3 separate regions of the Homo sapiens genome follow, and regions 2 and 3 are each linked to region 1. The links come from fine-mapping of genetic effects on gene expression. A gene starts in region 1. Each other region holds a variant in brackets. All regions are shown on one strand. Distances are from middle to middle.

What was found. PIP is the estimated chance that this variant, and not a neighbour inherited with it, causes the effect.
Region 2: its variant is fine-mapped to the expression of PAIP2B in spinal cord (GTEx, PIP 0.97).
Region 3: its variant is fine-mapped to the expression of PAIP2B in amygdala (GTEx, PIP 0.98).

What each region holds. Positions count from the first base shown.
Region 1 is chr2:71,222,569-71,230,755 of GRCh38, forward strand. PAIP2B (poly(A) binding protein interacting protein 2B) reads right to left here and starts at 4,535. Exons shown (of 4, transcript NM_020459.1): 1 at 4,360-4,535. RefSeq lists enhancers at 3,965-4,465, 4,681-4,820.
Region 2 is chr2:71,182,742-71,190,928 of GRCh38, forward strand. It overlaps PAIP2B (poly(A) binding protein interacting protein 2B), which reads right to left. Exons shown (of 4, transcript NM_020459.1): 3 at 7,104-7,280; 4 at 1-5,794. The coding sequence ends at 5,738. Among named protein-coding and RNA genes, the nearest start is that of PAIP2B, 40 kb to the right of the region's middle. RefSeq lists enhancers at 1,222-1,723, 1,724-2,223. The variant G/C (reference allele first, on the strand shown) is at 3,900.
Region 3 is chr2:71,036,226-71,044,412 of GRCh38, forward strand. It overlaps the pseudogene OR7E46P. Among named protein-coding and RNA genes, the nearest start is that of NAGK, 28 kb to the right of the region's middle. The variant C/T (reference allele first, on the strand shown) is at 4,966.

The sequences.
Region 1 (8,187 bases):
CTAGGGCCAAGAGACAATATGGCTGCTTAGATGACTTTCCATCCAAGTTTACATTCAGCCCTCATCACCAAAGCTGATATGTGTGTGCCTCTTTCTTGCAACCCACCAGGGACTAACACATCATATACCACTTTTGGAATTAGGAAACAGGCTCAGAAGTCCAAGAGCTTGACCAAAGGAACTCAGTTGGTAGGTAGCAGAACCAGAATTCAAAGACCCAGGTCAGCATGATTCTTCTATAATATCCTGCCACTTACATGGGCAAGTGGCCTCAAAATCAACAAAAGACAAGTAGAGGTTGACATGTGACAATGGAGAGAGGCTCAAAAGGAAGTTTGTACACAAAAATACAAAAGGAAATGTTCTGGAAGTATGTCTGGGGATGTGAAGTAGGAGCAGGCACACCAGGTTTACCTTGGTCAAGTGAATCTATAATTCCAACCTGGGCCTTTCCCCAGAGCTCCTGACTTAGCTCTTATCTGTCTTTCTTAGGCAAATATAAAATCCACAGGGCAGGACCTTAATCTCCAGCTTGTTCACCACAGATTAAAGCAGAGTTTGAGGCTGGATGCAGAGGCTCACGCCTGTAATCCCAGCACTCGGGGAGGCCAAGATGGGTGGATTCCCTGAGGTCAGAATATCGAGACCAGCCTGGCCAACATGGTGAAACCCTGTTTCTACTAAAAATACAAAAATTCGTTGGGTGTGGTGGTGTGAGCCTATAATCCCAGCTACTTGGAGTCTGAGGCAGGAGGATTGCTTGACCCAGGATGCAGAGGTTGCAGTGAGCTGAAATCGTGCCATTGCACTCCAGCCTGGGTGACAAGAGCGAAACTCCATCTCAAAAACAAACAAACAAACAAAAACACAGACTTTTTTTTTTTTTTTGAAATGGAGTCTCACTCTGTCACCCAGGCTGGAGTGCAGTGGCACGATTCGGCTCACTGCAACCTCCACCTCTTGGGTTCAATAAATTCTCTGCCTCAGCCTCCTGAATAGCTGGGACTACAGGCTCCTGCCACCATGCCTGGCTAATTTTTTTGTATTTTTAGTAGAGACAGGGTTCCACCATCCTGGACAGGTTGGTATTGAACTCCTGACCTCGTGATCCACCTGCCTCAGCCTCCCAAAGTGCTGGGATTACAGGCATGAACCACCACGCTCAGCCGAGTCTGACTTATGGTAAGTGCTTAATATATGATAAATGAACAAACTGAATGAATGAATATATGATAACTGAATAAATTTATGAATAAATGTACAAACTATCAAATAAGCTAAAGAAATAGTCCACATTGTTGGGGAAAGGGGTTACCATGAAACAGACCCTAGCAGTCACTTACAAATACAGTTCATCTTCATTATTTGTGGATCCCATATTTGCAAATTTGCTTACTTGCTAAAATGTCTTTGTAATCCCCAAATACTTGTGGAGCTTTCAAGGTGACTTATGGATATACACATAGTAGTGAAAAATATGTCACTCCTTGCCCAAGTCCCAAGGTGACCCTCAGCCTTGTCTCAGCCCTCATACAAAGATGACCAGAGGACAGAGACAGCAGAGGGCAGTGCAGCGTAGTGCAAGAAGCTCTGGCTCTGGGGCCATCTGGACGAGTCTGAATCTTAACTCTGGCACCTGTTAGTAGAGAGGCCTCAGGCAAATCGCTTAACACTTCTGTACTTCCTTTATTTTTTGTAAGTAAGGAAAATTCAATCTACCAGGATGAGTTGTTTTTAGGAATTAATTTTGTAATCTGTGTGAGATATGTATATATGTATATATTTTCCCTGGGAACAAGGGTTGAATATTTGATAATTCAGTGTTCTTGGCAACTTTATAGAATATAACTACTGCAAATAATGAGAATTGACTATAATTATTTATAAAGAAATAACAGAGAAGTAGGCAAAACATTTGGATGAGGCAGAGGCAGGCTTCAAGATTTTGAAGAAACAGAATTTCACCAAGCACATAAGGTGTGGAAAAGGCTTGCAAGGAGAGAGAATGGTGCATACAGAGAGAGGTCCAGATGGTGGAAAAAAACAGGTAGGTTCAGGAAATGGCACTTCAGGAAGTCTAGAGCAGTAGGAGATGAGATCAGAACACAGTGCCATCGTGCTTCTCTGCACCCTGTATATACCTTCTACTGCAGAACCTCACTCTCTGCATTTAATTATTGGTTTCTAGTTCTCTCTTCCATTAAACTGTGAGCTCCTCAAGGTCTCTAAGAAGAAATCATAGCTAGAGTCCTCTAAATTTGCAAACAAGTTATTATTAAACACAAATACTCCCAAAAAAGACTGCACAAAAATAACTTTGGTTTTCAGCTGCAGTCACAGCAATTCACAACTGTTACAGATTTGCAATTTGTCCAGGATTTTTCTCTGATGACTGCTGTAACTCTGTCATAAACTCTTTTCCTTGTTTTAGACACCCAGACATTTGTTGGAACAGTTTTAAGATCTTACTCTTTTTAGTGTAATTGATTGATTGGTTGATTGACTGAGATGGGGTCTCACTATGTTGCCCAGGCTTGTCTTAAACTCCTAGGTTCAAGCAATCCTCCTGCCTCAGCCTCCTAAGTGGCTGGGATTACAGGCACACACCACTGTGCTAGGCTCTAGTGTGATTTATTAACAAGGCTTAAACATATGGTCCATTAGACAAGGCTGCCACCTCAGAGTAAAGATTTCTTTTAATTCACTATAATAGACTTTTTTCTTTATATACAAGATACAATTTTACCACAGTAAAATACAAGGAAGCATACTGATACATACATTACAAACAGGATAAAGAAAGCAATATAATTTTTTCCACAAAAGCTTGCAAAATCCTGGCCAAAACACAGTGAACATGATGTTAAACTCATAGCTTACATTTCTCCACTGAAAGCTAGGAAAAACAATTCCAATTTTTGAAAAGTCAGGAAACTAAGCACTGTGAGAATTTACAAGATTTTGTAAACCTGTATATTCTCCCCACCCCGATATACAAGTAGCCAGAGGAGCCTATCAGTCTTACCCCAACACTTCAATCTCCTCCAACCTTCAAAATAAAACCCTCACTGTCCAATATCTGAATTTATATTTTCAAACGTCTAAAATCTTAATCAAAGCTAAGAGCAGTGCATTAGCTTTTCCCCATAAAATTGTTGGCATAATTTTACTTAGGCACAGCATAGTTTGTACTGTTATCAAAAAACATATGGCTAGAACCGACATTACTAGAAACCAAACGAATATACTATGAAGGTGAAAAGGGAACAGGGAATGTTGTTTTTGGACAGATTCAATGCTGTTATTATCCCTTCATAGGTTGGGTGTGATCGAATCACACTGTGCTGTACAACTAAGTATGTTCTATATTTTATGACAAAGTAGGGTAGCCAGGCCCTTACACTACAAACTCCCAGAAACCCCAGTTAAGCTGTTTAAAGTATAATCCAATTCAATTTACTGAAAATAATAGTAACAAAATTTAAATCCCTTGCTTCTAGTTAGCCCTTTTCAACTGCATTTTCAGCAATTACCACCAAAAGAACTGCATTAGGACAAAGATTCTAGAGCGGGTATAATGGTCAAATGCCATTTGAAGGCAAAAACAGTCTACCAGGAACAAAACATTAAAGTTCCCAACCTTGCCAAACTCCCTGTTCTGCGTATTCTGCCTCTCTCAGTTCACCTTCCAGCTGCCTGGAAGAGGCAAGTGGAAAATGTTAGTTTTCTGGAGAGATGAGAATGGAATTTAGGGGTTGGTAGGGGGTGATGGGCTCACTCACGGACCGCAAGGCACAAGAGAAGTGGCGAACGTCTCCCAGGCAAATGAGGCATGAAGAATGAGGGCTGGAGTCAAGGGGGAGATGGAGCAAGTATAAAAAGGCAGAGGACGCGCAGGGGCCGCGAATAGGGGAAGGGCACGACGCGCAATCCCTCCCGCTCCAGCCCGGGGAGAGGGGCGGGGGATGCCGCGCGGGTCAATTTGCCTAGCATTGTTGCACCTGGGTAGAAATGGGACTCAGGCCAAGAATTCGGTTCGAGTGTTAGGAGGACGCTGAGGGGAGTCAGGAACTTGGGTGGGAGTCGGGGGGAAACAGAGCACCTGTGCGGGGGGGAAAGGGACGAAAACCCCCTATTGCTCCCGAGGGGCAGGGGCTGACCCCAGCGGACGCCCCTTTTCGCCGATGGCCGCGACGTGGGACCCCGCGCGCTTTCCCTCCCTACAGGAGCTCGGGCAGGCGCGTGCCGCCCTTCACAGCCCCGACGGCGGCAGAAAGGGAGGCGCAGGGCGCCCCCAGAGCCGGGAGAACGGCGTTTCCCTCGAGTCCTTTCCCCAGCAGCCCGGGCACCCGAGCCCACCTGGGCTAACCAGAAGCCCCTCCTTCAGATCGTACTCTGCCACTCCTCCGAGAGCTTAAGCCGTTGCCGTAGAGGTCGCCGTCGCCACAACAGTCTCGGCCTTTAGTACCAAAACGTGAAGCACAGCACCCGAGAAGCGCCACTACCACTTGCCAGGTTATCTCTTACTGCACACTGCCTCCTCGCCCCGCCCCCGAACCCAAGCCATTGGTTGCCGGGCACCGCCCCATTCGTCTATTGGGCCAAAGAAGATGCCGTTCGGTCACCTAGAATGGCATATGTGGTTTTTATTGGTCTAAATGTGAAGCAGTGCCCGCCCACTCCCTCAGAAGTTTCAGCTTCTGATTGGTTTTAATGTCTGTCTTTTCTCTTCCTTCATTTTTTTTTTCCTGTGGTGGAACACCTCCTTGAGGGAGATGCCGGCTCTGATTGGCTGAAAGGACGCTACGCTAGCCTGGGATAGGCATTGGGCCAAGGATGCGCCCGGCCCACTCGTGGGGGAGGAGACCAAGGCGCCGCACTCTGGGTTTGTTTACACAGGCTCTTGCTCCCGCTTCGTCTATTGGCTGAGCTGGAAGCCACTGCCACCGAGTTTTGCCTGTCAGCCTAGCAAGGAGGAGGGTGGGGGTGGGCCTCAGTAGGATTTCCCTCAGCTGTCAATTACCAAAGGAGGAGCTTTGATTCAGGCTGCTTTGGACCTGGTGCTATTCTCTGTAGGGAAAATTAAGGAATTGGGCTCCTTGGGAGGCTGGAAGGAAGCAAAGGGACGCTGGAAGGAAGCAGACGGATGCTTCCACGTTTCTAGAAACAAACCTAACTTCTTGAGTGCTTTAAAAAAATAAAACTTGGCCGGGCGCGGTGGCTCACGCCTGTAATCCCACCACTCTGGGAGGCCGAGACGGGCGGATCACAAGGTCAGGAGTTCTAGACCAGCCTCGCCAGTATGGTGAAACCCCGTCTCTACTAAAAATGCAAAAATTAGCTGGGCGTGGTGGCGGGCTCCTGTAGTCCCAGCTACTCGGGAGGCTGAGGCAGGAGAATCACTTGAACCCGGGAGGCAGAGGTTGCAGTGAGCCAAGATCGCACCACTGCACTCCAATCTGGGCAATAGAGTGAGGTTGCGACTCAAAAAAAAATACATCAATAAATACAAATTAAAATAAAACTTTATTGCCTCCCTTGGATTTAGAATGTCCAATCTGCTTGCAAAGGACTTCGAATTGTATTCCACAGGAAGTAGGGATTTCTTTGTGGAGCTCTTACTTTATACATTTTTCTCTCCCCCCCACCTCTCAAGCTGACTGTATACATGACACAAAGTTAGGGAATTGCAGAATGAATGGAAAAAATATAAAAATGAAAAAGATAAACTCAAATAACAATTATAAATATTAGCTGTATACTTTGATATGGTTTGGCTCTGTGTCCCCACCCAAATCTCATTTTGAATTATAATTCCCAATGTTGGGGGAGGGACTTGGTGGGAGGCGATTGGATCATGGGGGCAGATTTCCCCCTTGCTGTTCTCGTGATAGTGAGTGAGTTCTCACAAGGTCTGATGGTAAAAAAAGTGTGTGTCCTTCCCCCTTAGCTCTCTCTCCCTCTTGCTACCATGTGAAAACGTGCTTGCTTCCCCTTTGCCCTGATTGTAAGTTTCCTGAGGCCTCACCAGCCATGCCTCCTGTACAGCCTGAGGAACGGTGAGTCAATTAAACCTCTTTTCTTTATAAATTACTCAGTCTCAGGTAGTTCTTTATAGCAATGTGAGAATGGACTAATACATACTTCATATTAAATGATATAAGTAAATAAATAAATTCATTCAACAAGTATTATTTAGCATCTACTATGAATGTTCTAGGCTCTGATCATGGAACTGGGTATATGATATGAATAAGACAGTGAAGATGCACCCATGGTGTTTATACTGTAGTGAAGGAGACTGACAACAGAAAAGTAACCAATAAATAATAAAATGGTATGTTGTGAATAAATGCTACAAAGGAAAATAAAGCAGAGTCATGGGATGGTTGGGGAAATGGCTATTTTAAGTAGGATGGTTAGTTTAAGAGCTGTTTGAGGAAACAGCACTGAACAGAGATGTGAATAATGTGAAGAAGTGAAGAGTGGGAAGGGGCTAATAAGCAGAGCCACTACAGTGCACAACTCCAGGATCACTATTCACATTGCTCCATGTATTTTGAAGTTGTGTATTAGGTGTACATCCATTTAGGGCTGCCAACTCTGGTTTAAAGCTTTATTTGATTACATAATTTAAATGACGCCTGCAAGAAACATGTGTCTTTTAGAAAAAAAAAAATCTCTCTCTAGGATAGCATCCCCATACCCTCCACTGCTTCTTTCCCTGAATTGGCCTTCCGGTGTATGATGAGAGAAAGTTTACACAATCTCATAGGTTTGAAAAACAGGCTCTTCTGGTCCACGTGGTGTCCTTGAGCAGTCAGAAATACTCCTTGAGGATGAACCTTTATTACCAGGATAGCAATGGGATGTAAGGAAGGGTTGATGAACTTCTCTCGTCTCACTTCCTACCACTGGTGCCATCTATTATAAATTCATGGCTGGCTATTACCAGTGATAAAGAGAAAAGTCTTAAAAGCAGGCAGAAAAAAAATATGGCCATTTTAAGTAGAATGGTTAGTTTAAGAGCTGTTTGAGGAAAGACCATTGAACAGAGATGTGAAGAAGTGAAGAGCAGGAAGGGGCTGGGAAACATACAGAGGGGAAAAAATAGATAAGAATTACAGCAAATTTCTTATCAGAAACTATGGAAGCCAAAAGACAATGAAGGAATGAGGTAGCAATGTGGGTATCTGGTGGTGGTGGGCAGGGACAGATATGAGACAAAAACCAGTCATAAAGTTGTAGGAGATGATGTCAATGAGAGGGAGGGAGGCAAGAGAAGCCCATCACCCTTCCCCACATCCTATTGCTATTAGGGCAATAAATCTTCAACCTTGAAGATTACATCATTTCATTTTTTAAAATTTAATTGTGGTAAAATATATATAAAATTTACCATCTTAACTATTTTAAGTGTACAGTTCAGTTACAGTAAGTACATTCACATTTTTGTGCAATCATCACCACAATCCACCTGCAGAACATTTTCATCATTCCTAACAAAAATTCTGTACCCATTAAACACTAACTCCCCATTCTCCCCTTACCCCAGCCCCTGGAAATCACCATTCTGTTTTCTGTATCTGTGAATTTGACTGCTCTAGGTATCACGTGTAAGTGAAATTATGTAATATTTGTCCTTCTGTGTTTGGCTTTATGTCTCCCACGTTTAAGTATCAGAATTTCTTTTCTTTTTAAGGCTGAGTAGCATCATTATAGGTATATGTCCTATTTTGTTTATCAATTCATCCATTGATGGACATTTGGGTTGTTTCTATCTTTTGCCTATTGTGAATAATGTTGGTATGCAAATATCTGTTCAAGGGCCTGCTTTCAATTATTTTGGGTATATATTCTGAAGTAGAATTGTTAGGCCATATAGTAACTCTATGTTTAATTTTTTGAGGAACCACCGTACTGTTTTCCACAGTGGCTGCACCATTTTGCATTCCCGCCAACAATGTACGAAGTTTCCAATTTCTACACATCCTTGCCAACAGTAGTTTCTTTTCTGTTTTTTTTTTTTTTTTTTTTAAATAATAGCCATCCTAATGAGTGTGAAATGGTACCTTATCCAGGTTTTGGTTTGCATTTTATTTTATTTTTCCCATAACTCAGAATGCAATTTTATTTCATTTATTTTTCAAGACAGGGTCTTGTTCTTTCACCCGAGCTGGAGTTCAG
Region 2 (8,187 bases), 40 kb before region 1:
TTTAACATTTTATTGAGATTCTCAACAGCTGCCATTTGGTTTGTATAGCAAATTTTTTACAAAGTAACTTTTTTCCATTTTTGATATTTTTATGAAAATTATTTTCTTCAGTTTTAAAGCCCTGTCCCTCCCCCAAAGAAGGATTAATAACTACCAAGTAATGATTAGGGGAAAAAAAGCAAAAACAGCTTTATAAACACTTGTGAAACAGGGGTAAGTGTCCGAAGTCAAGACCTTCTGGGCCCAGTGGAGGTGCTGGGCTGCTCCGGGACACCATCACCACTTCACCATCCACAACATCCTCAAGAGCTGAGCAGCCCTGCACAGACCCTGGGGGGCTTCCTGTTCCACAAGCTCCACTCCCTTTTTCCTCTCCATCTTTGCTGTTGGGCCTCCCCTCCAAATCTGCCTAACAAAGGCAGCACGATCTTTAATGCCTGTGCAGCTTTGTAAGTGGAGCCAGGTTACTCTGTTTTGAAAGCTGAGATTCCCTGTCCAGTCTGGGGGAGGAAAAATTATCCAATGTAGCATGGATGGTTTCACTTTCTTGTCCACTCAGACACATGCTCATACTTATTAAATGGATTTATTGGATGCTTCAAAAGTCCTGATGTGTAGTAGCACAAAAGTTCCTTGTAAAAAAAGAAGTTGCAAAATTATAAAAATTTCTGCAGCAGTTCTGGCTCTGGATGACAAAGCTCATTCTGATTAGTAGTTTTTTTGACATGCACAGCAGCTTCCCCTATAAGTCCTACGTTCGGAGGGTTCCGTTTAGACAACAGGAAGTTGGAATCCAAGTTTAAAAGGCTCTCTGCTGACAAAATGTGGTACATCCATCAACAGAATTCTACTCAGCAATAAAAGGAACAAACTACCAAGACGTTATCTGTCATGGACAAACCTCAAAAACATTAGCTAAGTAAAAAAGCCAGACCCAAGGGACCACATATTGTATGATTCCATTGATTTGAACTGTCCAGAAAGGGCAAATTTATAGAGAAAGTAGATTAGTGGTTGCCGGGGGTAAGAACAGGATTAACTGTAAAAGAGCATGAAGGATCTTATTGGGAGGGATAAAAATGTTCTAAAACTGAGTAATAGTTACAGCTACACCACTGAGGGAAGTTACTAAAATCACTGAAATGTACACTTGAAATGGGTGTTTTATGATATGTAACATATGCCTCATTAAAGTTGTTTTAAGAAAAGGATTCCCTGCCTCCCAAACCATCCTTCAAGCATTAAACATTTTTGGAGGCTCATAATCAACAGGACAGAATAACTACTTAGTGATGATTTACAGAGTGAAATATTTTACTGTTTTGTAGTAAGCACATTTTAGTAACTGTACACTAGTACAATGTTTTTAAGATTTTATCTCATTTTTGTCATATTAGCCTAAAATGTTTATTTTTATTTAAAAAGTAGCCAATAGGAAGGTAAGATTGGGGAGAAAGCTCAGTAAATGTCACAAAAGAGACTCCTAGTAACACAATCTGAGGGAGCTTTTTCTTTTGAAATAAAGATGGTGCATCTGTCCCTTTACAGATTTCTCTCCTGTCCCCTGGGACTGGGGAAGGTGAATCTCCTGCCTGACACCTTGTAGAGATTAGTGTATCCAGCTATTCTATTGCCACGATGCCTCTAAAAACCAGACTGACTGGGAACAGCAGTAGGGGGTTGGCCAGTGAGGGCAGGTGACTAAGTGGTGTGCAGGAAACTCGCATGTTTCCCTGGGTTGGCTTCCTGCTCCCCTGTCCCTGTCACCAATAGCAGCTTCATTGTGAGAAGATTAAAACAAAGGAAAAAAACCCAAAAAAACTGTTTCCAAATTGTAACTAACCAAGTCTGTGTAGGAAATTCACAAGGCAGCAGAGCAGAGGCTGCAGAGGTGCTCTGTCTACCGGGAGAACTAATGATCCCTGTGAGCAATGCAGGGTGCAATGAGTCACATGGGGAAATGTGGACAGAGGCAGAAGGACATCAAGGCCCCCACTACACACCAAATTAGAGTCAATCCTCCTGTTCTCCCCACCCACTTCGCAAACTAATGACGTCCGCGTTATCCCAGAGGAGAGTGGCTAGGGACACTCAGTCCTTCCCAATTATGTGGACGTCTCCAAATCTTGGTCAAATCTGTCAGATTTCTAACAGTTTCAATACCTCAATATCACCTAAACTGAGAAAGATTATTAGCCCGTGATGGTGGGACCCTTATTGACGAAGGCCTGCCCCCTCCTCACAGTTGGGTAGATTCCTGGGTTCCTGATGGTTCAGGAGCCTGGGCTGTCATTTGTCTACCTGGGGTTTGCAGCAGCCCTAGTACAAGAAGATTCATTCGTGCTGTTTACTTTGGCAGCCTCTTCACACAACTTTCCTCTCTAACACGTGTTAATTATCAGAGTATTCACCTCACCTCCTTACTTCCCAGCTTCTCCAAAATCAAAGCAATAGTAATAAACAATTTGGAAAATGTTGCTTAGTATTTTAAGCCATGGTTAGCATTATAACCTTAATTAAAGAGACCCCAGGCTGGGGTGGCTCACCACACCCAGCCTATAATCCCAGCACTTTGGGAGGCTGAGATGGGAGAATCACTTGAGCACAACAATTCAAGAGTAGCTTGGGAAATAGAGCAAGATCCAGTCTCTACAAAAAATAAAAATAATAAAAATAATTAGCTGGCCGTGGTGGTGCGTACCTGTTGTCCCAGCTACTCGGGAGGCTAAGATGGGAGGATTGCTTGAGCCTAGGAATTTGATGCTGCAGTGAGCTATGGTCATACCACTGCACTCCAGCCTGGGTGACAGAGTGAGACTATGTCTCAAAAAAAAAGAAAAAAAAAAAAAAAAGAGGGACCCCAGCTGCTGTGACTTTGGAAACTAAAGGTGTTAACAAAGGTCAAGCCTTTCCTTAGGATCGTTTCTGGTTTCACCCTTATGTGATTCCCAAAACTCAACTATTATTGTCAGAAACTGGCCCAAAGACCCAGGGCTGCATTTGCCCAGGCCTAGGCTGTATCCTTGAATTTTCTGCTGCAGTTCAAAGGCCTGGAGAAACTGAAAATGCATTCATTTGGGTTTTTTCCCTTGAAAAGAAAGAGATAAATTATTTTCATCTTGGAATTTTAGAGTTGAATAAATAATCCCAATAATTACAGATCAATCACTAATAAACTAACATTGGGACCAGCCAGATTGGCAACTGTTAGAAATACATGTTCCATTTCTATACAAATTCTCAAACTTCTAGTTGCCAATTTAAAAAAGTTTAAACAAAGTAGTGGCTTAAATTCAACATCAAAATTACCCCTTATAAATACAAGTCTTACCATTAAAGGGTAAAGGTGTCCAGTCTGGCTTGCTGGTTCTTCTTCTGTGAGAAAAGTCACTGACAGCCAGAGGCTCCCAGCCTTTCCCCAGTGAAGGTCCAACAAGACACACATGCATTTTCTGCTAAGAAGGTAGCAAACTCTAACTAGCCTGTGTTGTGAGTGACAATTGTGCCCCTACCTCCCAACATAAATAGATGGCAAAAAGAGTTGGACTACAAGAGGAACCGCCGGAAGCAGAGTCCTATGCATTTAAAAAAGAATCAATTTGCTAGCTGCTTCCTATACCTGGAGTCAGTATGTTCAGTGTCTGAAGAAGACTAGAAATGCCAGCCCTCAGTGTCCATGCTAAACTGGCAGGAAGTTTTCATAGTCCTGAAGACTGACATCCAAAACAGACCAGCACAGCAGAAGGAAAGACAAGCTCCTTTCTCTCTGCAATCCCAACGCATTTCTAACAGCCTTCGGAATTCTGAGCTTGGACAGGCTCACGAGGATGAAGGAGGAAAAGCAGTCCCAGAAGGGAGAGATTTCCTCTATGCACTTGCAATGCCCTTTCCCTTTTAGA[G/C]GAAACAACCCAGCTGAAAGCTGAAGCTTGAATAAAGAAGTTTCTTTATTCATAGTCCTCTCTGAAAAAGAGTTAACAGTTTCATTCTCTCAACATAGAGGCTTTGGGAATTAATGTGTCTGTCTGGTAATGCAAGTTCTCTAAGCTACTCTCCTATGACATGTGACCTAACAAGGAAGGCAATTTTTTCAAATGATATAATCCTAAAGACTCAAATAGGAAAAAATGTGTATTTTAAATCTGGCATTAGCTTATCACTGTTCAAAAAGTCAACGAGAGCTCATAAGGAGAATTTCTTCAGCTTTCCATACCCTAGTCCTTTCCTTCCAACCTCTGTCCCACAGCCACATACTGAATTTATACCAACTTTGTTTCAAGTTACATATCTTTTCCCTATTAGGCCTATCACACAGCACAGTAGCAATCAGAAAGAAGCCACTATTATCTTCAGGGCTCTCCAATTCCTCATCCCTGGGAGAATGGCCTGGATGGCTCTCCTGTACCCCACACTGCCATCTACATCTCTATACACGAAGGTAGCTCCTGGCACCCAGTTTAGTTCCTTAGGGGTAGCAACAAAAGACCCCAGCAAGTTAAAGGCAGGAAAGACAAAGAAACACACCCTAAGAGGTCAATCTACAAAACTTGCAAAGCTGGGTATGTGGGAACAGTAAAATGTTTTAATAGCTGAAAAGATCCCAGAAGGTCAGGTACACAGTCACATGGGTCAAGCAGGACTCACTTTCCTAGGCTGATTTTGAGTTCCTTTCCATAATTCTGTAATGTGGGAAGAAATATCCAAACTGTGAACTGAGCTTCTTACTAGTGTCCTGAAAAATATTTCCTTAAAAAAGTGCATAAACTTGTCTGAGGGAATTAAGACACCAGGAAGACCAAGTGTTGATGAGGCTGGAAAAAAAAACTGTCCAAATAAAATTAAGACACAACAGATTCAAGGATGACTTCTGCAGGCTCATGCTAATTGCCAGCACAGCAGGCCTCCCCTATGCCTTTGGTAGCAGTATCTTTTCTTAAAAAGGAGGCTGGGGAATAGACTTCATGAAAGATGAGGTGGCAGATCAACCCTAGTGCTCTTCTACTTATAAATGGTGAGTCTGATGGTGGTGGTGAACACAGGCTTATGAACAGGACAACAGTAACTAAATGACTCAAGTGACAACCACCATCACAGCCCTACCTTCTGATTTACAACTTTCAACAATCATCAAAAGTTACTGTAAACTAAGTACTTTAAGTCTGTGTTTTCTTGAATGGGGTTCAGGACAAACAGGCAAGGGCTTGACAGCACATTGGTTATCCGAGTTCATTGCAGGAGACCCCGGGGGTGGGGCAGCTGAGCCTCAAATTCCAGTTTGCACCACCTGCTCTTTCTGCTTGTCCCTTTTCCCATCCAACTCAATAGATTCCACAAAAAGCTCTCCAGGTGCTCACTGTCCCTGATAAGTATACAGCAGGGTGAGAGGGGCATTTCCTAAATATCCAGTTTTTCTTAGTCAGCTTATTTTGTTTAAATACACACCGCGGAACACTTCTGATGAAGGGGGGAAAATGCAATTTCCTTAACTCGAAAGAGCTATTTAAAAAAACAAAACAGGAAACTCCCCAAACAAAAGTCAGCAGAACAAAATAGAAATACTCAGAGGCTTAGAATAAGACTGAGCATATTAGTTACTCAGAGTCACAGTATTGTGAGACCACCACTCCCCTTCCCGCTGTGCACCCCTCGCCCGCCCCATCCCCCTCTTCAGCTCCACCATTTTGTGCATTACTATCCCCAGATGTGGGGACAGACAAGTCTTCCTCAAAGCTTTCTCGGCTCAGTACTTCTCTCCTGGAATAAACTCCTTGGCATCTGGGTTCAGGTTACTTTTGCTCTGAAATAAGAACCAAGAGATAGTAAATCCTAAGGCAAGCTGCATTTTAAAACTTACCCAGTCCATCATTATCAGTACCTTCCCCTTAGCTTTAGGGAGAGAAAGAAAATTCCTTGTAACTCAGGCTGTTATTGCTAGGTTATCTCAACTGCACCTGACATAGCCCTGAGCAAGCTCATCTTCTCCTTCCTTCTTTGGACTCTTGTTTCCTTCCTGATGCTTTCCAAAATCTCATCAGAGGCCTGTAAGTTCAACTCCAAGAATAATTTTTCAATTCACTGAGTACCTTAACTTGGTGAAAACCAGGGTACTCCATCAGACCAGGCTGGATACCACAATCTCTATTTTTCTTCATCTTTCTGTACTCTCTTTGGTTCTCTACTCTCTTGTGAATATCCAAAACCTTAGCAAACCACAGGGCAAGATTGTTCAGAATATGAGTTGTATGAAAACTATATTGCTCACAGACTTTTTTTTTTTTTTTTTTTTTGAGACAGTCTTGCTCTGTTGCCCAGGCTGGAGTGCAGTGGTGCAATCTTGGCTCACTGCAAACTCCGCCTCCCTCTGCCTCCCAGGTTCAAGCAATTCTCCTGCTTTAGCCTTCCAAGCTGGGACTACAGGCGCGCACCACCATGCCTGGCTAATTTTTGTATTTTTTTAGTAGATATGGGGTTTCCATGTTGGCCAGGCTGGTCTTGAACTCCAGACCTCAGGTGATCCACCCGCCTCAGCCTCCCAAAGTGCTGGGATTACAGGCGTGAGCCACCGTGCCCAGCCTGCTCACAGACTTCTGATGTTACATAAATATGAAAGGCAGGAAATTAATTTATCTGGTTTTCTAATTCTAAGTGGAGAAAATGACCTCTCAGGAGTACATTTCTTCCAAAATGAACAGCTAATTTTTATAACAGAATCATTTAGAAGTATATTAAATACAGATTTGAGGGACAGTAAAAGAGAAGAATAGCAACAAATGATATTTGAGAAGAAACTTCTTCAGTGTTCAAATTGTTATCCTTAATCCCAATTCTACTTTGAAGAGCCCATTAGAAAGTAAAGGTTGGTGGCGTCCAATCTTGGCAAGTAAAAAGCCCGTGATGCTGGCAACAGTAATGTTTTATAGTGCTTTATGAGGAGCAATGCATCTTTAATGCACCCCTTATTAATAATGCCCATAAAACGAGCAAAGAAACAACAGCTCACAGGGCTCCAGACTTGTTGAGGGTTGTAGGGCTGGAAAGAAAGTCTGTCATTCCAAATCCTATATTCTTTTCACTACATAACCTGGGGAACTACATATGGCTCTTACCAAAATATCTTCAGAATCATGACCTTCACTGACTGACAGTCCATTTAACTGCTGTTGCAACTGTCCCATGGCCTGAGGCAGGTCTCGTGAGGGAATAAACCAGTCTTGGTCTTCTTCATCCAGCATCTCTTGGAAGCAGCGGTCCAAGAAGTCTTGCTCCTGCAGTTCCTCCTCCACCTAGCAAGCAAAGGGGAGCAGCTCAGACTTACTGTCACAGCAAGACTTACCCCTTCCAGTTTTTCCTCCACCTCTTTCCTTCAGAAGGTATTACTCTGCAATTAAGAATGATCTTGAGCTGGGTGTGGTGGCTCACAACTGTAATCCCAGCAGTTTGGGAGACTGAGGCAGGAGGATTGCTTGAGGCCAGGAGGTTTGAGACCAGCCTGAGCAACATAGCATGACCCTGCCTCTACAAAAAAAATTTTAAAATTAGCCAGGCCATAGTGGTGTGTGCCTGTAGTCTCAGCTACTTGGGAGACTGAGGCTGGAGGACAACTTGAATGCAGGAGGTCAAGGCTTCATTGAGCCAAGACTGCGCCACTGCACTTCAGTCTGGGCGACAGAATGAGACCCCGATTCTTTAAAAAATAAAAATATATTTAAAAAAAAGATTTTATGATCTTACATGAGGTCCAAGGGATCTAAGGATTCAATGCGCCTAATGACTAGCTAGAGATAGCATAATTTTTATTTTTTCTCAACCAAATTCTATCACTAATAAGACTAAGAAAATAGTTATTCACAGTAACAGAAATTCAAGGTCTCCGCAGATGTTCTACGATCTCTAATAGGTGATACAGATATCATGGAAAATCATTTTAGAGCCTAAAATTCTTTTCTCAGTCTTGTTACAAAGTAACCCTTCTTAAATTTCCCATTTTATAAGAAATATGAAAAAGATACTGCAAGTATATAACTAGTTCATGACCTGGCTAGTGGAGATAAAATCAAAGCCAATGCTCTCAGCTTCTGGCCATTTTTTGGGTAAGGAAACCCTCAAGGGAGAAAAATACTTTCAGAACATTAGGAAGACATAAAGAACACTTTTTGGCATACCAATAGAAAATTACATAATCAATGTAGT
Region 3 (8,187 bases), 190 kb before region 1:
AGAGTCTGGCCATTGATTTTCAGTACCACCCTTTCTACTTATCTGTATGGCAAGGGGTGAGACGTCCATCCTCTGAGACTCAGCACTCTCATCTGAGTTGATTTCTAGTTGATCCAATGGAAGTGAGCGATGATTAAACCAATCGTGGGTGCCTGCTGCGTGATCTCTATGTGATGGATGCGTAAAGTAAAGGCAAAGTGAATTTTAGATACATTCGTTAGTATTTTAAGCTTAAACTCCATACGGTTCAACGGAAATGTCCCCTGACCTGAAGTTCTGGTTTCCCTGCATTCCGGACAGGACATTTTATTTTGTCCTTATCTCAGTAAGTACTGAGTATTGTGAGAGGAACAAGTGAGTCTCTTTTGTTTCTGATTCCCCAGAGCCTATATCTTGCTTGGCATCAAGGAGATAGCAAAGTAAACATCTATGTGAATTGTTGAATTGACACTTCCTTGGTTCACAAAAATTGGCTGTCATCGGTGTGACGTCAGTGTGACAGAGCGTGTGTTTTTGGTTTTTTGTTTTTTGAGAAGGAGTTTTGCTCTTGTTGCCCAGGCTGGAGTGCGGTGGTGTGATCTCGGCTCACTGTAGCCTCTGCCTCCCAGGTTCAAGCCATTCTCCTGCCTCAGCCTCCCGAGTAGCTGGGACTACAGGCGCGCGCCGCCATACTGGGTGAAGTTTTTGTATTTTCAGTAGAGGCGGAGTTTCACCATGTTGGCCGGGATGGTCTTGATCTCCTGACCTCGTGATCCACCCTTCTTGGCCTCCCAAAATGCTGGGATCACAGGCGTGAGCCACCGCGTCCGGCCAAACGTTCTGATGAAAACTCTAAGTCCACCGAAGCTAAGGACAGGAGTTACAGCTTACATGAATTTTAAAACAAGACCCACCGATTTGAGTAAGAAATTACTCTCTTGAAGGAGAAAAGTCAGAAAACATATTGATGACATCACTAGGACCTAACTGGCCTGTGGAACTATTTTCTGCTTATGAACTATCAACTTTAATTTCATTTCCAGATGGCATGGTCTCAGCAGTTATACAGTGTTTACAGATGTTCTAAATCAAGGGAATTTCTATCAATCTCTTCGAATAAAATAAAATATTTGAGTTCTTAATTTCCTTTCACTAGGATAACCTTTTTCTTACAGTGAAGAGAATGGTTTTATTACATAGTTTCCTTCGGTAAAGATAGGCTGTCTTTTCTAGCAATTATGAATTTGTTATATATGATGATCTGGTTCTTGGAACATTCTTGAATCTAGTGTCTCTGAGGCAGGTGTGTACAGCAAGAAGTGAATAACACAGAAATCAATGATGAAAGCATTAGAAGACAATTGAGTTTGTCAGAACTGCAAAGTATTGCTGAATGTGGCTTGCTCTGAAATCTGAAAACATTACTTGCGAATTGTTTCTATCCAAAATGCAGACATGATTCTGGGTGTTGGTTTACTTGTTTCCGATTTCTCAATCCTCTTTTCTAGGCAAAAGGTGTCCAATCTCTACAGACCCACAGAATCTAACAGATGTCTCTATATTCCTCCTCCGAGAACCTCAGAGGATCCAGAATGGCAGCTGGTCCTTGCTGGGTTGTTCCTGTCCATGTGCCTGGTAACGGTGCTGGGGAACCTGCTCATCATCCTGGCCGTCAGCCCTGACTCCCACCTCCACACCCCCATGTACTTCTTCCTCTCCAACCTGTCCTTGCCTGACATCGGTTTCACCTCCACCACGGTAGCCAAGATGATTGTGGACATCCAATCTCACAGCAGAGTCATCTCCTATGCAGGCTGCCTGACTCAGATGTCTCCCTTTGCCATTTTTGGAGGCATGGAAGAGAGACACGCTCCTGAGTGTGATGGCCTCTGACCGCTTTGTAGCCATCTGTCACCCTCTATATCATTCAGCCATCATGAACCCGTGTTTCTGTGGCTTTCTAGTTTTGTTGTCTTTTTTTTTTTTCTGTCTTTTAGATGCCCAGCTGCACAACTTGATTGCCTTACAAATGACCTGCTTCAAGGATGTGGAAATTCCTAATTTCTTCTGTGACCCTTCTCAACTCCCCCATCTTGCATGTTGTGACACCTTCACCAATAACATAATCATGTATTTCCCTGCTGCCATATTTGGTTTTCTTCCCATCTCGGGTTCCCTTTTCTCTTACTATAAAATTGTTTCCTCCATTCTGAGGGTTTCATCATCAGGTGGGAAGTATTAGGCCTTCTCCTCCTGTGGGTCTCACCTGTCAGTTGTTTGCTGATTTTATGGAACAGGCGTTGGAGGGTACCTCAGTTGAGATGTGTCATCTTCCCCGAGGAAGGTTGCAGTGGCCTCAGTGATGTACATGGTGGTCACCCCCATGCTGAACCCCTTTGTCTACAGCCTGAGAAACAGGGATATTAAAAGTGTCCTGCGGTGGCCGCACGGCAGCACGGTCTAATCTCAATATCTTCTTATCTGTTCCATTCCTTTTGTAGTGTAGGTTAAAAAGGCAGCAAGGTCAAATAAGAATGATATCACAGGGTGAACACCCACTGTGATATTAGGAGTAATACCTCCCTAGGATATAGAATATTCTGTCACAGAGTATAGACACATGGGGTACACCCACCGTGATATTAGAAGCAATATCTCCCTAAAGTAGGAGGAAAAATATCACAGGGTGTGCACACTGTGTGATATGAGGAGTAATATTTACCCTGGATATTACAACTAATATCAAGGGTGTACACACACGGGGTACACGCACTGTGATATCAGGAGTTGTATGTCCCTAGGATATTACGAATACTATCACAGGGTATACACTATGTGTGTACATCCACTGTGATATTTGAAGTAATATCTCTCTATGAGATTATAAATAACATCAAAGCGTGTACACCCCTGTGACATATTGGAGTAACATCCTTCTAGGGTATTACAGATAACGTCACAACGTGTACACCTTCTGGGACGTTTTGTACACTCTTTGTGACATTAAAAGAAACATCCCCCTAGGATATTATGAATAATAACACAGGAGGGGTACACACATGGTGTACACCGCCTGTGTCATCAGGTGTAACATTCCCCTAGGATATTACGAATAATATCACAGCAGGTGTACACACATAGTGTACACCCCATGCGACATTCGGAAGAGCATGCCCCTAGGATATTAGGAATAGTATCACAGGCGTTGAATACGCATTTTTAATGTGTAACGTCACCCCCGGTGACATTAAAAATAACATCCCCCTTGGATATTATGAATAATATGACAGGGAGTACACCCCACGTGACATTAGGAGTAACATCCCCCGAGGATATAATGAATAATATCAGAGGGTGTACATGCATTGTGACCTTAGTAGTAACATCTCTTTAGGATATTACAAATAATATCACAGGGTGTACAGGCATTGTGACATTAGTAGTAACATCCCGCTGGGATATGATGAGTCATATCACAGGGTGTACACCCCCGTGACAATAGTAGCAACATTCCCCTAGAATATTACGAATAATATCACAGGAGGTACAGCCCCTGTGATTTACGAGTAACATGTCTATAGAATATTACAACTCATATCACTGTGTGACTCTGGGTACACCCCGTGTGACTTTAGGAGTAACATCCCACAAAACTATGACGAAAAATATCACAGGGTGAACACCCCCTGTGACCTGAGGAATAACATAGTTTTAGGATATTATCAATGATGTGACAAGGTGTACACCCCCTGTGACGTTAGGAGCAATATCCGTCTAGGATGTTAGGAAGAGTATCACACGGAACACACCCCCTGTGACATTAGGATATGACAAATAATATCACAAGGTGTACACGCATCGTGACATTAGTGCTAATATCCCTCTGGTACACTATGAATAATATCACAGGGTGTACATCCCTGTGACATTAGGAGTAACATCCCCCTAGAATAGTAAGAATAATAACACGGAGTGTACACCCCCTGTGACATGAGGAGTATCATCTCGCTAGAATATTATGAATAATGTCACAGGGTGTTATCGTCTGTGCCAATAGGAGTATAGACCCCTGGGAAATTATGAATACTATCACAGGGTGTACAGCCCTGTGACATTAGGAGTAGCATCTTTCTAGAATATCACGAATAATATCACAATGTGTACACCCACTGTGTCATTAAAAGTAACATTGCCCTAGGATATGATGAAATAGAACACAGGGAGTAGACCACTTGTGACATTACAAGTAACATCCCCCGAGGATATAACCAATAAGATCGGAGAATGTACCTGCATTGGGACATCAGGAGTAACATCTCTTCAGGACAATACGAATAATATCAAAGGGTGTACACGCATTGTGAAATTAGTAGTGAACTCCCGCTAGGATTTTAGGAATTTTATGACAGGGTTTACAGGCCCTGTGACATTAGCAGTAACGTTTTCCTAGAAGATTACGAAGAATAGTAAAGGGTGGACAGGACCTGTGAATTACGAGTAACATTTCCATAGCATATCGGACGTAACATCACTGTGTGCACACGCCGTGTGACATTAGGGGTAACATCCCACAAAATTATAGCGAATAATTTCACAAGGTGTGCAACCTCTGTGACATTAAAAGTAACATTTCCCTAGAATATGACGACAATATCACAGAGTGTACACCCTCTGTGATATAAGGAGTGACATCTTATGACGTTAATACGACTAATTTGACAAGGCGTACAAACCCTGTGACATAAGGAGTGACATCCCTCTAGGACATTATGAATACTATCAAAAGGAACATACCCCATGTGACAATAAAAGCAACCTCTCCTTAGGAGAATAAGAATAACACCACAAGGTGTACACACAATGTGACATTATTACTAAGGTAAAGGTAGGATATTGGGAATAACATCACAGTATACAGAGTCCTGTGACATCAGGTTTACAATTCCCCTACAAAATTACGAATAATATTGAAGGCTGTATACCCCC[C/T]GCGACTTTAGCAGCCGCATCTTGCTAGAATATGGAAGATAATGTCCCAGGGTGCGAACCGAGGGTGGCAGTATAGAAAGGATCCTAGGAAAAATCAGGAAGTAAGAGCCAGCCCCTCTTCCCCACCCTGGCTCTTAGGACCCCCATTGCAGGGGGGTGAGGCACCACCCGCGATGCGGGGAGTAAGAAAGAGCCAGCCCCTCTTCCCCCCCGGCTCTTAGGACCCCCATCGCAAGGCGGGTGAGGCACCCACCACGATGCGGGGAGTAAGAGCCACCCCCTCTTCTCCCCCTGGTTTTTAGGATCAGCGGTGGACTCACAGCCTGTTTACCATATTGTGAGTAATATCATCTCCCCCTCTGGAGACTATGAACTGTTTCACAGACGGGTGTACACCCTCGGTGTATGGAGGGTGTTCACCCGTCTGTTTTGGGAGTAATATCATCCTCTTCCCCCCTGAATATTAAGAACAGTATCACAGGGGTGTTTCTACTCCCTGCGATGTCGCGTGTCATATCCTCGTCTCCCACGTTGCAATTAGAAACAATATCAGTGGGGGCGTGTCCACCTTCTGTCGTTTTGAAGGTAATATCATCGTCTTGCCTCCAGGATCATGGGAACAATATCCCTGAGGGGTGTCCACTTTCTGCCATATATGTCGTCATATCACCCCCTCCGCCTTGGAATATTATTAAGGACCATCTCACATGGAGGTGTACACTTCCTGCGATATTGGGAGTAATATCAACCTCTGGGCCTCTGAATATTAGGAAGAATATCACAGGGTGGGTGTACACCTCCTGCTCTATTATGGGGAGCCATATCTATCTATTATGGGGAGTAATATATCCTCTCCCTTTCAGGATATTAATAACAATTTCACAGGCTGGGTGAACACACCCTGCGATGCTGCAATTATTGTCATCCTCTCCCCCTCGGGTTACTAGGAACAATATCACAGAAGAGGTGTACACTCCCTGCGATATTGGGAGTAATATCATACGCTTCTTCCGTGAATATTAGGAACAATATCACCGGGTGGCTGTACAATCATTGCTATGTTGGCAGTCATGTAATACTCTACCCGCTGGGTATTAGGATCGGTGTCACAGGGTGAGTGTACACCTACTGTGATATGAAAACTAATATCATGCTCTCCATCCCTGGATATTAGGAACAATATCACAGGTAGTTGTACACCCCCTGCGGCATTAGCAGTAATAATATTATGAATTATTAAACATCAGTCTTGTTAATAATTAGCCATGGTAGTATTAATTAATAGTATAACGTTATTAATCATTAATGATTATTTTCAAGATAGGATTATGCATGATTAACGTTAATTATTAATATTAATGTCACTTTTATTATTAGTTATTAATCTTAATATTAATTATTACTTTATTACCAACATCACTTATGATTGATTGAAGTAACTTTAATTACTGATATCATTATTGTATTATTAATAGTGATATTGCTATTAATTATTAATAGTAACCCTTAATATTTTTAATCCCGATGTTTTATTGTCTCTACTGTAATTATTAATATCGATGATTACTATTAATTGTTATTATATTTATTAATATTAATAATTGAGATAACTGTTCCCGATATCCGTGGGGGAGAGGATATTACTCCCAATATCGCAGAAAGTGGACACCCCTCTATGATGTTACTCCTAATAGCCAGAGGGTAGAAGATGACATTATTGAAAATATCGCAGTGTCGCAGTGGGTGTACATCCCTTCGGTCATCTTGTTCCTAATATCCTGGGTGGGAGCGGATGATATGACTCCCAATATCGCAGGGGGCGGAGACCTCCCCCGTGATACTGTCCCTAACATCCAAAGGTGGAGAGGATGATATTTCTTCCAATTTCGCCGGGGGTGCACACCACCCTTGTGATATTGATCCTAATATCCAGGCGGCGAGAGGATGAATTAGTCTGAATATTGCAGGAGGTGTACACTCCCTAGGGAGATTGTTCCTAATATCCAGGGACGGAGAGGATGATATCACTCCCAATATAGCAGGGGGTGTACAACCCTTCTGTGACATTGCTCCTAAAGGGCAGTGGGGAAGAGGAAGATATTACAGCCAATATCGCAGGCGGTGTATACCCCCTTGTGACATTCTTCCTTATATCCTGGGAGGGAGAGGAAGATACTAGCGGCAATGTCGCAGGGGCTGTACACACCCACTGTGATATTGTTCGGAATATCCCGAGGGGGAGAAAATGATGTTACCTCCAATATCGCAGGGGGTGTACATCCTCCTGTGATATTGTTTCTTATATTCAGGGGGAGAGGATGATATTACTCCCAATATCTCAGGGGTTGTACACACCTCCTGCGATACGGGGAGTAAGAGCCAGCCCCTCTCTGCCCCTGGCTCTTAGGAGCCCCATCGCAGGGGGGTGAGGCCCCCCCGCCGTACGGGGAGTAAGAGCCAGCCCCTATCCCCCCCTGGCTCTTGGGATCCCCATCGCAAGGGGGTGAGGCCCCTGCGATGCGGGGAGTCATATCACCCCCCTCTCCCCCCCGGATATGACGATCCACATCCCAGGGGGGCGGGCGCCGCCCGCGCTGCGGGGAGTCATATCACCCCCCTCTCCCCCCCGATATGACGATCCACATGGCAGGGGGCGGGCGCCCCCCGTGATGCGGGGAGTAATATCATCCCCCCCTTTCCCCCTGGTTATTACGATCCACGGTGGTCACACAGCCTGTTTACGTTATTGTGAGGAATATCTTCTCCGCCTCTGGAAATTACCAACCATATCACACATGGGTGTACATCATCTGCACTATTGGCATTAATAGCATCCTCTTCCCCCTTGTTATGAACAACAATATCACAGGAGTGTCTCTACCCCCAGTGCCATTGGGTGTATTATCATCCTCTCCCACGTTGAAATTAGGAACAATATCACTGGGGGCGTGTCCACCCCATGCGATATTGAAAGTAGTGTCATCCTTTTCTCTCCTGGGTGATGGAAAACATGTCACTGGTGTGGTGTCCAGTTTCTGCGGTATTGGGAGTCATATCATTCTCTCCGCCTTGGAACCTTAAGGACAATATCACTGGGGGGGCTGTACACACCCTGCGCTATTAAGAAGAATATTATCCTCGCCCGCCCTGCATATTAGGAAAAATATCACAGAGTGGGTGTCCACCTCCTGCGATATGGGAGGTAATATCATCTTCCCTTCT